Regions from separate parts of the Homo sapiens genome. Here all the other regions are reported to be linked to region 2. Evidence: microRNA targets listed by miRTarBase, many of them from high-throughput screens and not tested one by one. Region 2 holds a microRNA gene; each other region holds the end of a gene's coding sequence.
What was found. The annotated mature microRNA hsa-miR-3122 reads GUUGGGACAAGAGGACGGUCUU and lies in region 2 at 919-940, shown strand. An mRNA with a match to its seed (bases 2 to 7 or 8) in the 3' UTR can be bound and repressed. Matches are read on the target gene's strand: a 7mer-m8 pairs with bases 2 to 8, a 7mer-A1 pairs with bases 2 to 7 and ends in A, and an 8mer does both.

Region 1 (3,142 bases), not on the chromosome of region 2:
CAAAAAAAAAAATTATTTTTTGGAGACAGGGTCACACTCTGTTGCCCAGGCTGAAGTGCAGTGGTAAGATCACAGCTCACTGCATTCTCAACCTCTCAGGCTTGAATGATCCTCCCTCCTCAGACTCCTGAGTAGCTGAGACCACATTTGCGTACCACCACATCTGGCTAATTTTTGTCTTTTTTTGTAGAGACAGGTCTTGTTATGTTGCCCAGACTGGTCTTCAACTCTTGGACTCAAGTGTTTAATGGTCCTCCTGCCTCAGCCTCCCAACGTGCTGGGATTACAGGCATGAGCTACTGCACTCAGCCTTCAAATGCTATTTCTTGAGAAGTACTGTCGCATATCACAGATGACCATAAGCAACTTGTCAGCAGCTCTGCCATGACTGATCATCTAGCAAGGACAATGGCAGGAACAGAGAAGTCAGCACTGACAGTGGGAAGGGAGGCACATTTCTTGCTGCCAGCCTCAGGCACACGAAACCCCTGCCTGCAGTCCACACCAGCACCTCATCCCCATCTCCCTGGCCAGGGGCCATGTAACTAAGATGGCATTTCAGAATCTAGGTTAATACATCCAATAAGAATCACTTGGTTCAGTGCAGCTTGGGAAATGGTAGAAGAGCTACCCATTTGCAGCTGGATTCTACCTCGGGGGAGGGCTCCTGCTCAGCTGACTTGAGGTTGCCTCGACTTGTCTGGCTTGTCCAGCTTGTGCCTTCTAGTCAATTCCCCCATGAAATCTAACTTGTTGGCAGAGCACTTCCAGGCCAGGTATGGGGCTCCCTTTCCAAACCTGGGCATTATTAAGAAAAAAAAAAACCAAAAACCTGCCCAGCAGGCTCAGATGCCAGCACTCAGACACCTGAGGGGTCATGGGCAGCTGCATTTCAACTCACACTGCTGTCGAGATGAGGCATGTTTTTACGGGATCAGTTGTGTGGCTAAGGCAGTTCCCTCTTTACCATTATTCCAGGTGCCCAGAGACTGCCACGTAAACAGTGGTGCACACCCAACACCGTCATGCCCCCAGCACTCAACTGAGTGATAAGTTATTTCTAAATCTCTTGGAATTAAATCAAAGTTTCTTAAACTTTTTGTGGGCCGTGGGTCCCTTTTAAAATCCTTAAGAGGTGTGAATCTCCCCTACAAAAAATGGCCCAATCACCCCTCGTGAATCCTTCCCATGCACCCTTTCATTACTCTGTGACATCAGGTCTTCCTGATGGGGACTTTAAAACTAGGTGAGAAACCACTTTGGCTGTCTCTTAAATATTGGCCTGGCCAGGCACGGCAGCTCACGCCTGTAATCCCAACACTTTGGGAGGCCGAACCGGGCAGATCACTTGAGGCCAGGAGTTAGAGACCAGCCTGGCCAGCAAGGCGAAATCCCATCTATACTAAAAATACAAAAAGTATCCAGGTATGGTAGCACACAGCTATAGTCCCAGCTACTCGGGGCTGAGGCAGGAGAATCACTTGTACTCGGGAGGTGGAGGTTGCAGTGAGCTGAGATCACATCACTGCACTCCGTCCTGGGTGACAGCAAGACTCTGTCTCAAAAACAAAACAAAACAAAACAAAAGACTGGCCTTCAGAAGGAGGTGCCATGTGGCTCTTCAGGGATGAATGGGGCTTTAGGAAGGCAGAAGTGAAGACAGGCACCCCAGCCTTTTTGTGGAAGAGAGAATTTCCCATTTACCCAAAGCCTTAGAGCAAGCTTGTCCAATCACCAATCAGCAGCCCATGGGCCTCATGCAGCCCACGATGGCTTTGAATGTGGCCCAACACAAATTTGTAAACTTTCTTGAAACATTATTTTTTTGTGATTTTTTTTTTTTTTTAGCTCATCAGCTGTCGTTAGTGTATTTTATGTGTGGTCCAAGACAATTCTTTTTCCAATGTGGCACAGGGAAGTCAAGATTGGCCACCCCTGCCTTAGAGGAAATGTGGCAGGTGACACAGTCTACCTTCTGGTGTGAGGGAGAAGCACCGGCTTGGCTCCTGTGGAACAGCGAGCACTGAGGCCAGGGGGTGCTTCCAAGATTGCTCCGAGGGCTCTTCTGTCAGCCTAGGGCAATGGGTTAATAAACTCATGGTCCACAGTAGGAAGAGTTTTGGTGCTTCAAAGAAAACACAGGTGTTCAGATCTCTGAAGAGCGATCCTGGAGCCCAGAGTTCCCCACGTGAACTCAAGTGGACACCCAAAGGCCTCCAAGCCTCGTCACCTTATCCTACCATGTTCCTGAACAGCATGGTGGCAGTGATGGCCTTCGGAATGATGAGGCCAAGGTGAGCCAGGAGACTGCTCCTGGGCGGGGTTTGGCCCCAGGACTACCTTGGATCTAGGCTTGTCGTCGCTGTAAGTGGTAACACTGGGCCGCAGCTAGGAGCAGGGCAGGGTGGCTACCATGGCACCTGCTCCTTCCATGTGCAAGCCGCCACCCAGAGCAGATGTGCAGCAGCAGCTGCGGGCAGTCATGGAAAGAGAGAACAGCGGGAGTTGAAATTCTCATAATTTTAATGATCAATAGCTTCTGGTGGGCTCTGGATGGTACAGTTAAACAATAGACTTAAAGACCTCCCCCAAAGCACGTCCACACCCCCTCGGCAGCGTCTGCCTCCATCAGCATTCCACTGCCCAGTCGGACTTCCACAGCCTCAGACCCCCCTCTTGGGTTATGGAAATCCACATCTTAGTGTAATGAGCTGAAAAACCCTGGGTACACCCGTGATCTGTTATTTTTTAAAAATAACAAATACTAAGCCAAACACCTGCCCAGGCTCTGCTGCCTCACAGAGTGTGGCGATCTGAATACTCTGTTGTCTCTTGTGGGCCGGGTGGTTTTGCTTCGCTCCCTGTTCTACTGAAATCATACGGCATAGAGTTCGTAAATCTTCTTTACACAGTACACCAGGGCGGCCAGTGCTATCGTGTTGTGCAGTCTCTTTCTGTGCAGGTCGTCCTTCCGGACCAGCACCACCGGGGTGGAGGAGGTGAGTGTGTGCAGAGGCAGGCGCGACAGTTTATAGGCGTCGTACTCCACTTGGTACTTGCAGCAAGGGTCAAACTGCCAGGAGATCCCATAGAGGGTGCAGCAGGCCAGGCTCAGCACACCAGCGGGCAGGGAAATGTAGTG
Region 2 (3,142 bases):
TCGACTGGGGCCATCCCAAACAGAGGAGGAAAGGAAAATTTCTGTGACTACTGGGATAGTTAGAGACGATCTTCAAAGTCTTTTCTAAAATATGTTACATTGTGAAAGAATGAATTATCTCTGTGCCATTGTAGGAGTAGGCAGTAAGTGAGATTCCTGTAGATGTGGAAAAAGCTTCCTTTCTGATAAATTTTAATTAACTCTGCAAGACAAGTTAGACTCTGCTCTTTGTCTTCTTTTGCTTTTTTAATTATTGCATATGTACCATTTAAGCCAAGAGAGGAGTATTAATGATTGAGTTGAATAACCTTATCAGTCAGTGTGTCAGATCTCTTAACCATAATCTGGGGGAATCTATTAAGTTTACTTAGTCATTCTCACAAATAATCATTCCAGAGTCACCTCCACTTTCTTCATACAAATGAGCCATGATTCAGAGCCTCAGGAAAATGAAAAGAGAATAACTTCTCTCAGCCCCAACCTCCTTGCTCTTTTGAAACACACATGCTAATAATAGTTATGTGTGTTTGTACTCGTTATTGTGCTGATTAATTCCCATGGCCTATGAAAGAGATTGACATCTCTTGAATGAGTCAGCTGTATGATGCTGTCAAATGTACATAACTGGTGGCATCTGATGATGGAAAAATATGATTCTTAGTCACATGTACAGGACAGTACAATGTGACCCTTCTTTCTGCATTAAAATATATTAAAATGCGAGTGACACTTACTTGAAAATTCAAAACTTCTCTCAGAAAATTAACTGAAATATAGTTTTAGAGGAAAAAAATGTTTTTCAGAAAGGATACCAAAGTGCCATGTAAAATATAGTTTATACCCCTTCAGAATGAAGGTTATCCAACTCAAAATGAAGGAGTATAACTTTGGGTTTTGTAAAAGTTAGTGACCAGCTCTGTTGGGACAAGAGGACGGTCTTCTTTTGGAAGGAAGACCATCATCTTGTCCGAAGAGAGCTGGTAGCATGTTTCAGAAATCTTCAGGTTTCACAGTTAATTTAGTGTTCCTAGAAGTAGCTGACTAGGGATCTGAAGATATATATGCTGTGTAAAAACAGGACTGAGTTGTCGAGTTGACTACTTAAGGATGGATAACATCCTTCCAGAAAGTTTACCACCTAAGGAATAAGGGACAATGCCAGTCTTGAATTTTAGTCAAAATATATATGGCTAGGTTGTCCTGATATGAAATAAGGACTATCCTTGTGTGTAAGCTCATGTTATTTACTTATTTTGACTGTTTTCATTGTGTTTTCTCAGATTAGTAACAGAAATATTTCATTGCCCATTGGAAATCTGTTGTTTTTTTTTTCCTAACTATAGCTAGGCAGGTCTAGTGGCCTTTGGTAACAATCCTAAAGCTCTCTAAGACACACTTCTGAATTCAAAGGCCTCTATCTGGGAAATCTAATATTGCTTTGCTGACTTGTTTGTTTTTGATTGGACTAGGTCTCCACACCCTGGCAACCTCCTACTGTGCTCCTGGGTCATTCTCAAGAGGTCACGTCTGTGTGCTGGTGTCCATCTGACTTCACAAAGGTTTGTAAATGAATCTCTATAGTTGGTTTAAAATGTAGATCACAGGTTTGTAGGTTTTTCTAAGGTTTGTTTTGAGAATGATATAAATTTTTATGTTTAAGTTGAGATTTTAAAGACCTAAAGGCCATCCAGGATCTATATTCACATTACTCAGGCATATTCTGCTTTTCTCTACCCATACCATAATGGTATTATGCCCTGTGAAATAAGGATAGATTTCTGGTTCCCTACAGTTATTTCTTTCCTAAATGTAGGATTAAGTTGTTAACTTAATTAAAATTTTCTATTAAAATCTAAGATAAAAATACAATCTAAGGTGAGAACTAGTCTTTTTTACTTTTTAGATATTATCAATGTAGTATATTAAAGGTAACATCTTGACAGCCCAATTTGGGTTTTCACATATGGCTAACAAAATGGTAACTGTGAAGTCTTAACATGTTAGGTTATCTATTGCTTAAACTATGTAAGTAGGTCTGAAATGTTTTAGATACTCCAGAAAGAAGACAATATGCCCACCTTTTAATTTTTTTATAGTGACACTTTAAGAAACAAAAAAACCCTAAAATGTAGAAAGGCCAGAAACATTAAAAACTATGTATCTATTGGAATTGCATATAATAGTAGCTCAAGTTCCAGTCATTCTCCCAAACCCCATTGCCTCTGGTCTTTGAGTTATTCTGGGTTCTACAGGAAATCTTATTTCTGTGGAGGTCTCCCCTTTCACGTATGACGTTTTGAGGTTTTGTTGCCTATTGTTCCCATCTGTTTTTTATCTTCCAGAAACTTCTCATGGTCTGGTCTATTTGTGGCATCCCTGCTAGCTTCCAGTATTGCTGTGGATTTCTCCTTATTGTTACCATTTCTGTGCTCAACTTCATGGCAGACCTTTTCTTTTTTTTTAAGTCATTACTTTAATCACCCAAAATTACATATTAATGATATTTTTTCCTCTGAGATTCCATGTAATTTCTTTTAACATGGAGGGTTGCATCTTCATGGGACTTACTAAGTTGAATGATTTTTGAATTATTCAGTTAATTATGTTATCTTTTTTTCAATTGTCATATATTATCCTTACCCCTATGCATCTCAAACATCATATATTAATTATCCTTATTTCCTGTGCTCAAAGGAAATAGCAGGGCTGTTTACCTATACTAATTTATTGGCTACTTTTTTAAGTCTTAAAAATAATTTCATCCCAAGCCTAGAATTAGGAAAGTAAAATATGGTTTGTGTTGTTTTTGTGTTTTTAATGTCTGGCATTTGGAATAGGAGAAAGCTGGGTTTAAATTCTAGCTCTTCCATTTGATTGTGGTTACTTTGGGCAAATAACTTTATTCCCATTTTGCATATGAGATTATTTGAGTACAAAGCTTTTAGAGTGTGAGAATTAAATAAGATAAAGAATGTAAACTACCAGACACATAGTAGGTGCTCTGCAAATAACTATTGTTAATAAACTATAGAAGAACTGTGAGATTCCAAACATTTCATATTGAACAGTTAAATATGTGTATCTTCTTTTGGCCTCCCAGTAAGGAAAGGAAAAAGCTGCCAGTCTCTTGGGGGCCAAGACT
Region 3 (3,120 bases), not on the chromosome of region 2:
TCAATAATTCTCTAATGTCAAGTATACAATTTAATGATATTTTCAGTAAATTCACCATACATCAGTTTTAGAACATTTTCATCCCCTCCATCAGACCCATGCACTGTTAATACCTATTCTCACCCCCTGCTTGAGGCAGCCTCTAATCTACTCTCTGTCTTTATGGATTTGCATATTCTGGAGATTTTATATAATATGTGGTCTCCTGTCTGGTTTCTTTCACTTAGCATCATTTTTAGCATGAATGCCATAGCATGTATCAGTACTCATTCCTTTTCATTGCTGATCTTGACGGCCTTTTGTGTTTGCCATAGGTCACAGTCACCAGCTGTTTCACGTGTGTGTGATCCTGGCCACGCACATGCAGATGGAAGCCATACTTCTGGACAAGACTCTGAGGAAGGAATGGCTCCTGGCCACCTCCAAGCCCTTCTCTTTCTCTCAGATAGCTGGAGCCATACTTCTGTGCATCATCTTCAGCCTCAGCAACATAATTTATTTCTCAGCTGCTCTGTATCGGATTCCCAAGCCAGAATTACATAAAAAAGAAACATGACTCAGACCATAAGCTTTTCATGCCAGATGTCAACATTAAGCTGCAACATCCTAACCACCATAAGCCGGAGGTGGTTACAGCTTATCATGGCCTAAAATATTCATAATGGTTGGTGTCTTTTGAATGAATTCATGTCAAAAATGTTATTCAGCTGGGGAAATTTCTCTAAATGTACACTGATTCTGTGTGTGTGATTTTAAAAGGAGAATATGGTTCAAGCAAGTCCTTGTTAAGGCAAACTATTGATATTTCATTAATTTTAAATTTACTTAAAATGTGGTTTTAAATTCTATTTAAACATTTGGATTAAGCATATTACTCTGGAGCTTTGTATTATTCTTTAAAAATGAATCTTGCTTCATTTGATGAATTTCATGTCACAAAGCTTCTCTCAAGAGCTCTCGTAGTGGCCTGTCAACCACTTTCGGAGAATGAGCCAGGTCAGTCACTGGGAGGACCTGTGAAAGAAAGTTGGTCACTGAGTGCCTTGGGGACTGGCAAAACATTCCAGAATGAAGAGAGCTGTCTGGGGAGAGCCCTTCTTCCCTTCTCCACCTAGTGAAGGGAGAACAGAAGGGGAGTCCTCTCTTCCCACAAGTCCATTCTGCCTTCAAAGTGTAAGTTCTCATGTCATTATGGATTTGGAGTTTGTCAGTTTTTTTCTTAAAAGTCCACAGCGGGGTGTCATGTGTTCTGTTATGTTCTGTTTTCTGGTTGCCAGTTTGATCTGCAAAGTATTTTTCAGTGCAGGTAAAATGTGTTAAACCATAAGAGTTGACTGAGTTAATCCCAATTGGTTGTGCTCATATGCCACCTTTTAAACCAATGGAAATTGCTATATTTGGGGATGTCATACATTTGATATTGCTTCAGCATTTCAAATATGTTGCAAAATTTAGTATCCATATGCATAAGAAGTTAATCACCTTGCCAGTGGGGTGGTCACATATAGTGTTCTCAAGCTTTACTGTGAATCAGAAACATCCAGTAAGCTTGTGACAAATGCAGACTCCTAGGGAAAACCAGGGGGTTCTGCTTCACTAGGTTAAATGTAGGTTTTGTAGAGGAGATCTGCACTGGAGCAAGTCTCCCAGATGATTCTAATACAGGAGGGCCAGAGGCCAAACTTGAAGAACTGCTGGTGTTACATGTTCCAAAAGGCATTAGACCTATCAGCTTTGTTTCGCCTGATCTCAAGTTTTAGCAACTCACCAACTAAGGCGTAACCTCATTTTATGTTCCAGCGTTTTCTACTCTGAATAGTTCTAAAACACTGAGCATTTTCTCATTTGTTGCATTACTGATTAAAGTTCAGTATTTCATGGTGTTTTCAGGGAACACAGAAATGCGGATGCAAAACAACTTTTGACAGAGGCCCATCAAACCCAGATCTGCACTTGGTAATGACTTAGGGGGGCTTCCTCACAATGCAGGATCCTCTTTGCTGACTCAGGAATACTCCATATTTTAGACTACTGCCTCTACCATTAACTAGCCCAGACATTTGAATGGCCTTGTAAACAGCTCACTGTCTAATACTCGAAGGACAAGTAACAATTTATATTGGATGAGAGTGGTCAAGAAATATGATTTCGTTAGTTTTATTATCTGTTTACTTCCTCTGGGGAAGGCAGACTGATAAAATTATATGGGCTGGTAAATTTTTGGTACATTAATTGCAAGCTGCATGACAAAATTTGTTTTTCTGGCAACAATCTGACATTATTAGTGGAATTCCACACCAACAGGGCTTGTGAGCTTCCATTTCATCTTACTGTAACTTCAATTTTATGGCAAAAAAAGGTACAAAGTTTAAATACCCCTTTCTAGTAATGCCAAAGACATACAGTGTTTTACATTCTCTCCTTTATAGGTAACAAAATAATGTTTAGCTCAGTAAGTACTGAAATAATGAGTGACCAATTTGAAGGATTTTTAGATTATTTAATCTTTGCTTATGTTGCTTTTTCACATGCTTAATGATGGAAATGAAATGTTAAATCAACAAAATAAGATCCAGTGTTTCATAACATTTTTATAAGTTTGGTAAACTTTAGTCCCATTATATACTTTTGGGGACAGTGTTATAAATCAGAATTTTACGACAGTTTGCAGAACACTGATTTGAAAGCTTCCTATGCAAAATGAGAAGGGGTTCAAATATATTAATTATCATTAAGTATTAAATAATAGGCATTAGATGTCTAATGTGAGTATAATTTCATCCAAGCCATCTCAGAAAGTCTAAAAGGTTGGCAGGGGGTCAGCTGAAGACCTCACTGGAGTGGGTCTTAATTTTTAAAAAGTGTCTCACTACATTTAAGACATGTGACACATTCCCATTGGTAACAATTGCTCACCATGGCATTGTCTCAAAAAAGACTATGGTGGGGAGGGTGGCACATTCCTAATGGGATGTACCTCTCCCCACTCCCCTTGCTTGAGAAGCACTACTCAAAAATTTACCAGACCTTACAACTGTGATAAAACTTGAATGTGTATGATGAATAAGGCCATTCAGTTAACTTTACCTCCCTTTACCCATTGAAGGGGTTCCTTTTCCA
Region 4 (3,142 bases), not on the chromosome of region 2:
GAGGAAGGAGCTCCAAACGCAAACCGAAGCCGGGCCCCGCGCCGCCGCGGGTAATTACAGCTCATTAGCTGGAGAGCGTTGCCGTCGCGAGCGGCGTCCAGGAGGCCGGCGTCGGGGCGGGCGCGACTCGGAAGGGACCGGGCCTGCGAGAAACGCCCCAGCCGGAAAGCCAGGCGTGGGCCGCGCGGGTCTCCACCCGCCACCCCCTACTCCACAGAGTCCGACCGGACACGTCGAGAACGGTACCGTCTCCGGCGGCCGAGCTGCTCCGCCTCGGGCTGGGCCAGCCCGCCCGTGGGGACAGGGCCGTGAGTCACCTGCTGCAGCTCCCCTTCCGGGCCTCGACACCCCAGCTCCGGCCGCGGGCCCTTTGTCCGCAAATCCCAGCTCCTCGCCGGGCTCCCCAAAGTGGAGCGATCACACCAAACTCCTGGAGACTGGCGGTGGAGTCTCTACCGTCACCCCCTCCCCTTCCCCCGCCCCGAAAGAGGCTGTAACCCGAGGAAGCTGGAGGCAGCCCCGGGACCTAGCGCCGCGACAGCCCAGCGAGATTTAAACGGGGCCGTGAGGCCACCCCCAGCCCGCCTGCCCCGAGGAGACACCCGCGCCAGCGCCGCTGCGATCTTCCCGGCGATTAGGTTACGACCCTGGGGGAGGGGACCGAGCGAATCACAGGCCACGTAGAGCAGTTTTTGACTGAAATTAAAGTGTATTTATTTGCAGCAATCCTTTAACAATGATCAAATTTTGACAACAAGCAACAGCAATTACTGCTTAAGTGTTGCCTCTAGATAGGAGCGGCAGATAGCAGGAAACTGTATTATCTCCAAAACAAACTGCAAGCCCCCCACCCCCCCGAACGTCTGTAATCAAATCGCCATCTCCCCAAAGTCTGATTGGCAGGGCAGATCACCCTAAGATAATGAATTTATTACATTTCCTGGGTTATTTACAAAAGGGGGAGGGCCAATCCGGATTGTCCCCTAGGTTTAACTGTAAATTAACAAGAAAAAATGGTTTAAAAAGAAACCACCCTAGACCAAAATGTTCTGCTCCTCTCGCCTTCCTTCTTGTTATTGCTTTAAATCTTTTTCAAAAATAATTGTTCTACAAACATATTTTCTAAAATAGTTTCTCAAAGATTAAATATCCCTTTCCAACCCGCAGTATATTTTTAAAAAAGCAATCCTTCTATGTAATACATGAAGGATTGTAAATGGGGGAGAATTATATACATACATTTAAAAACTGGTTTATTTTTCCTTTTATAAAGGACTGAAATAATAGGAAAATATCTATTCAGCATCTGGCTCACAGGGATGTATAATATGCACTGCAATTTTATATGGAATACACAAGCCAAATATTTATCTGTGCATATCTGGCCGCACAGTCCCATCTCTCGGCACACAGGCATCACCGTGGTAAGACCGCGGCTGATTCATGGGCTTAAAATTTCCGAATCATGGACTGTCATTAGTGAGAAAACGTATTTGTTTATATGCCAACTCCAATCTGTTTAGAAAAATATCTTTTTACTAGCCTCAAAGCAAGCTGACTATATAGTACATTTTGCAGAAGATGCTGCAGGAAAATAAATCTAAACAAAAAGACTTTTAGTAAAATTTGACATGGACTAGTCAGAGGGTTTCTCCATTTTTCAGAGATTTAGGTGGAGAATAGGTAACTTCTAGTGTTTTATCTCTGAAATCTTTTTTCGTAATAATTAAAGCTCTATTAAAGTATCCAGACATATAGGTCTCATTCAAACTGAATGGTAATTTATTAATAAACAAACAATGAATATGTTCAACAAAAAGAAAGAAAAGAGGATAGAATAAGATTAATACAGTTTCCCTTTTTATAATGAGAAAAAAAGCACAATTTAAAGTTTCAGGCAATTTAACGTCAGGTTTTGGGAACACTTTCTGGCGTTTGGTCCACGACATCCAACTACAAATTAAAAATAAATTACTATGTTGCAATTTACATTTTAAAACAAGTCCATGAATAAAAAGAAAGCGACTTTCATAAACGGGGACTTTCCCCCTCCCTTCAACATAGGATAAAATAATATCTTACAGGTGAGAGGCAAGGAAGAAGGCAAGAGAGGGGAGACGGGAGGAGGGGAAAGCAGGTCTCTGAAAAGCAAGAAGAAACTTACGTGTTATCTGGAGTAACACTGTCCTTTAATAAACCAAGATTTTGCTGTCTCTGTATAAAACAGTTTACGGGTTTGTTTATTTAGACAAGGCAAAGTGGAGGTGGCTCTGAATTAATCGGTTAAGAAAATAGAGTTTTCTTCGTGCTGGTGCTGGTGAGCTGAATTTTTGGAGGGATATTCTGTTCGCTGGTGTGGTGAATATTCTCAGGGGTTTTTTTTAATTGGATTTTTTTTTTTTAGTTTCGATTTTGCCTTGATGGGTTCCTTTAGCTTTTCCTGCTTTGGGGTTCGATTTAGTTCGGCTTTGAGGGTGTGTCAAAACTTGCTACAGTCGTAGACGAAAGCTCCGGACGTGCGGTACAGAGACTGGCTGGAAGGGAAGGCCATTTGACAGCTACTATTCCCGTTCACTGGAGAGTTGTTCAAGCCGATCCTCTGTGACTCGAACATCTCCCGCACCGAGTGGAAGTTCTGCTGCTGGCCCGGGTAGCCTGCGGCCGCCGCCGCCGCCGCCGCGCTCGCCAAGTGGCCCAGGTCTCCGCCCGCCTGGTTCAGGTACCACGAGGTGAGGCGGCCTTGGTGGGCCGCAGGGTGGTGGCCGGCCTCCTGGCCTCCCCCGCCGCCGCCGCCGCCGCCGCCGTGACTCAGGGACGACGAGCTGCTGCTGGTGACCGGAGGCAGAGAGTAGTCGGGCAGGGGGTCGTCCACGGCCGAGCCGCCCGCGCCCCCGGGCGCGCCCTGCAAGTGGCCCCCGCGCTCGCCGGCCGCGTACAGGCTCATGGCTTGCAGGTTGCAGTGGTAGGTCCCGGCGCCGCCCGCGCCCCCCGCGGCCCCCGCGCCGCCGCCGCCGCCGCCCGAGCTGCCCGCGCTGGAGGTCTGGCTGCAGGGGGAGCTGTAGAGGGAGCTCTGGCCGGGCGAGTAGGCGCCGAGCGCCAGCGGGGGTGCGATCCCCGCGCGCGAGGACGCGGCCGCCGAGGC

Region 1: the mRNA of TMEM11 is a reported target of hsa-miR-3122. The part of its 3' UTR that is shown has no 7-base or 8-base seed match.
Region 3: miRTarBase lists PAQR5 as a target of hsa-miR-3122. The part of its 3' UTR that is shown has no 7-base or 8-base seed match.
Region 4: miRTarBase lists FOXC1 as a target of hsa-miR-3122. Seed matches in the 3' UTR shown: 7mer-A1 at 1,915-1,921.

What each region holds. Positions count from the first base shown.
Region 1 is chr17:21,195,449-21,198,590 of GRCh38, forward strand. TMEM11 (transmembrane protein 11) reads right to left here. Exons shown (of 2, transcript NM_003876.3): 2 at 2,506-3,142. The coding sequence ends at 2,876. Among named protein-coding and RNA genes, the nearest start is that of TMEM11, 17 kb to the right of the region's middle.
Region 2 is chr1:212,076,704-212,079,845 of GRCh38, forward strand. It overlaps MIR3122 (microRNA 3122), which reads left to right and starts at 910; the gene lies at 910-982. DTL (denticleless E3 ubiquitin protein ligase adapter) reads left to right here. Exons shown (of 15, transcript NM_016448.4): 12 at 1,470-1,559.
Region 3 is chr15:69,403,267-69,406,386 of GRCh38, forward strand. PAQR5 (progestin and adipoQ receptor family member 5) reads left to right here. Exons shown (of 9, transcript NM_017705.4): 9 at 315-3,120. The coding sequence ends at 556. All of the region lies in intron 1 of KIF23-AS1 (KIF23 and PAQR5 antisense RNA 1), which reads right to left. Among named protein-coding and RNA genes, the nearest start is that of KIF23, 9.5 kb to the right of the region's middle.
Region 4 is chr6:1,611,445-1,614,586 of GRCh38, reverse strand. It overlaps FOXC1 (forkhead box C1), which reads right to left. Exons shown (of 1, transcript NM_001453.3): 1 at 690-3,142. The coding sequence ends at 2,480. Among named protein-coding and RNA genes, the nearest start is that of FOXC1, 3.1 kb to the right of the region's middle. RefSeq lists enhancers at 1-342, 343-960.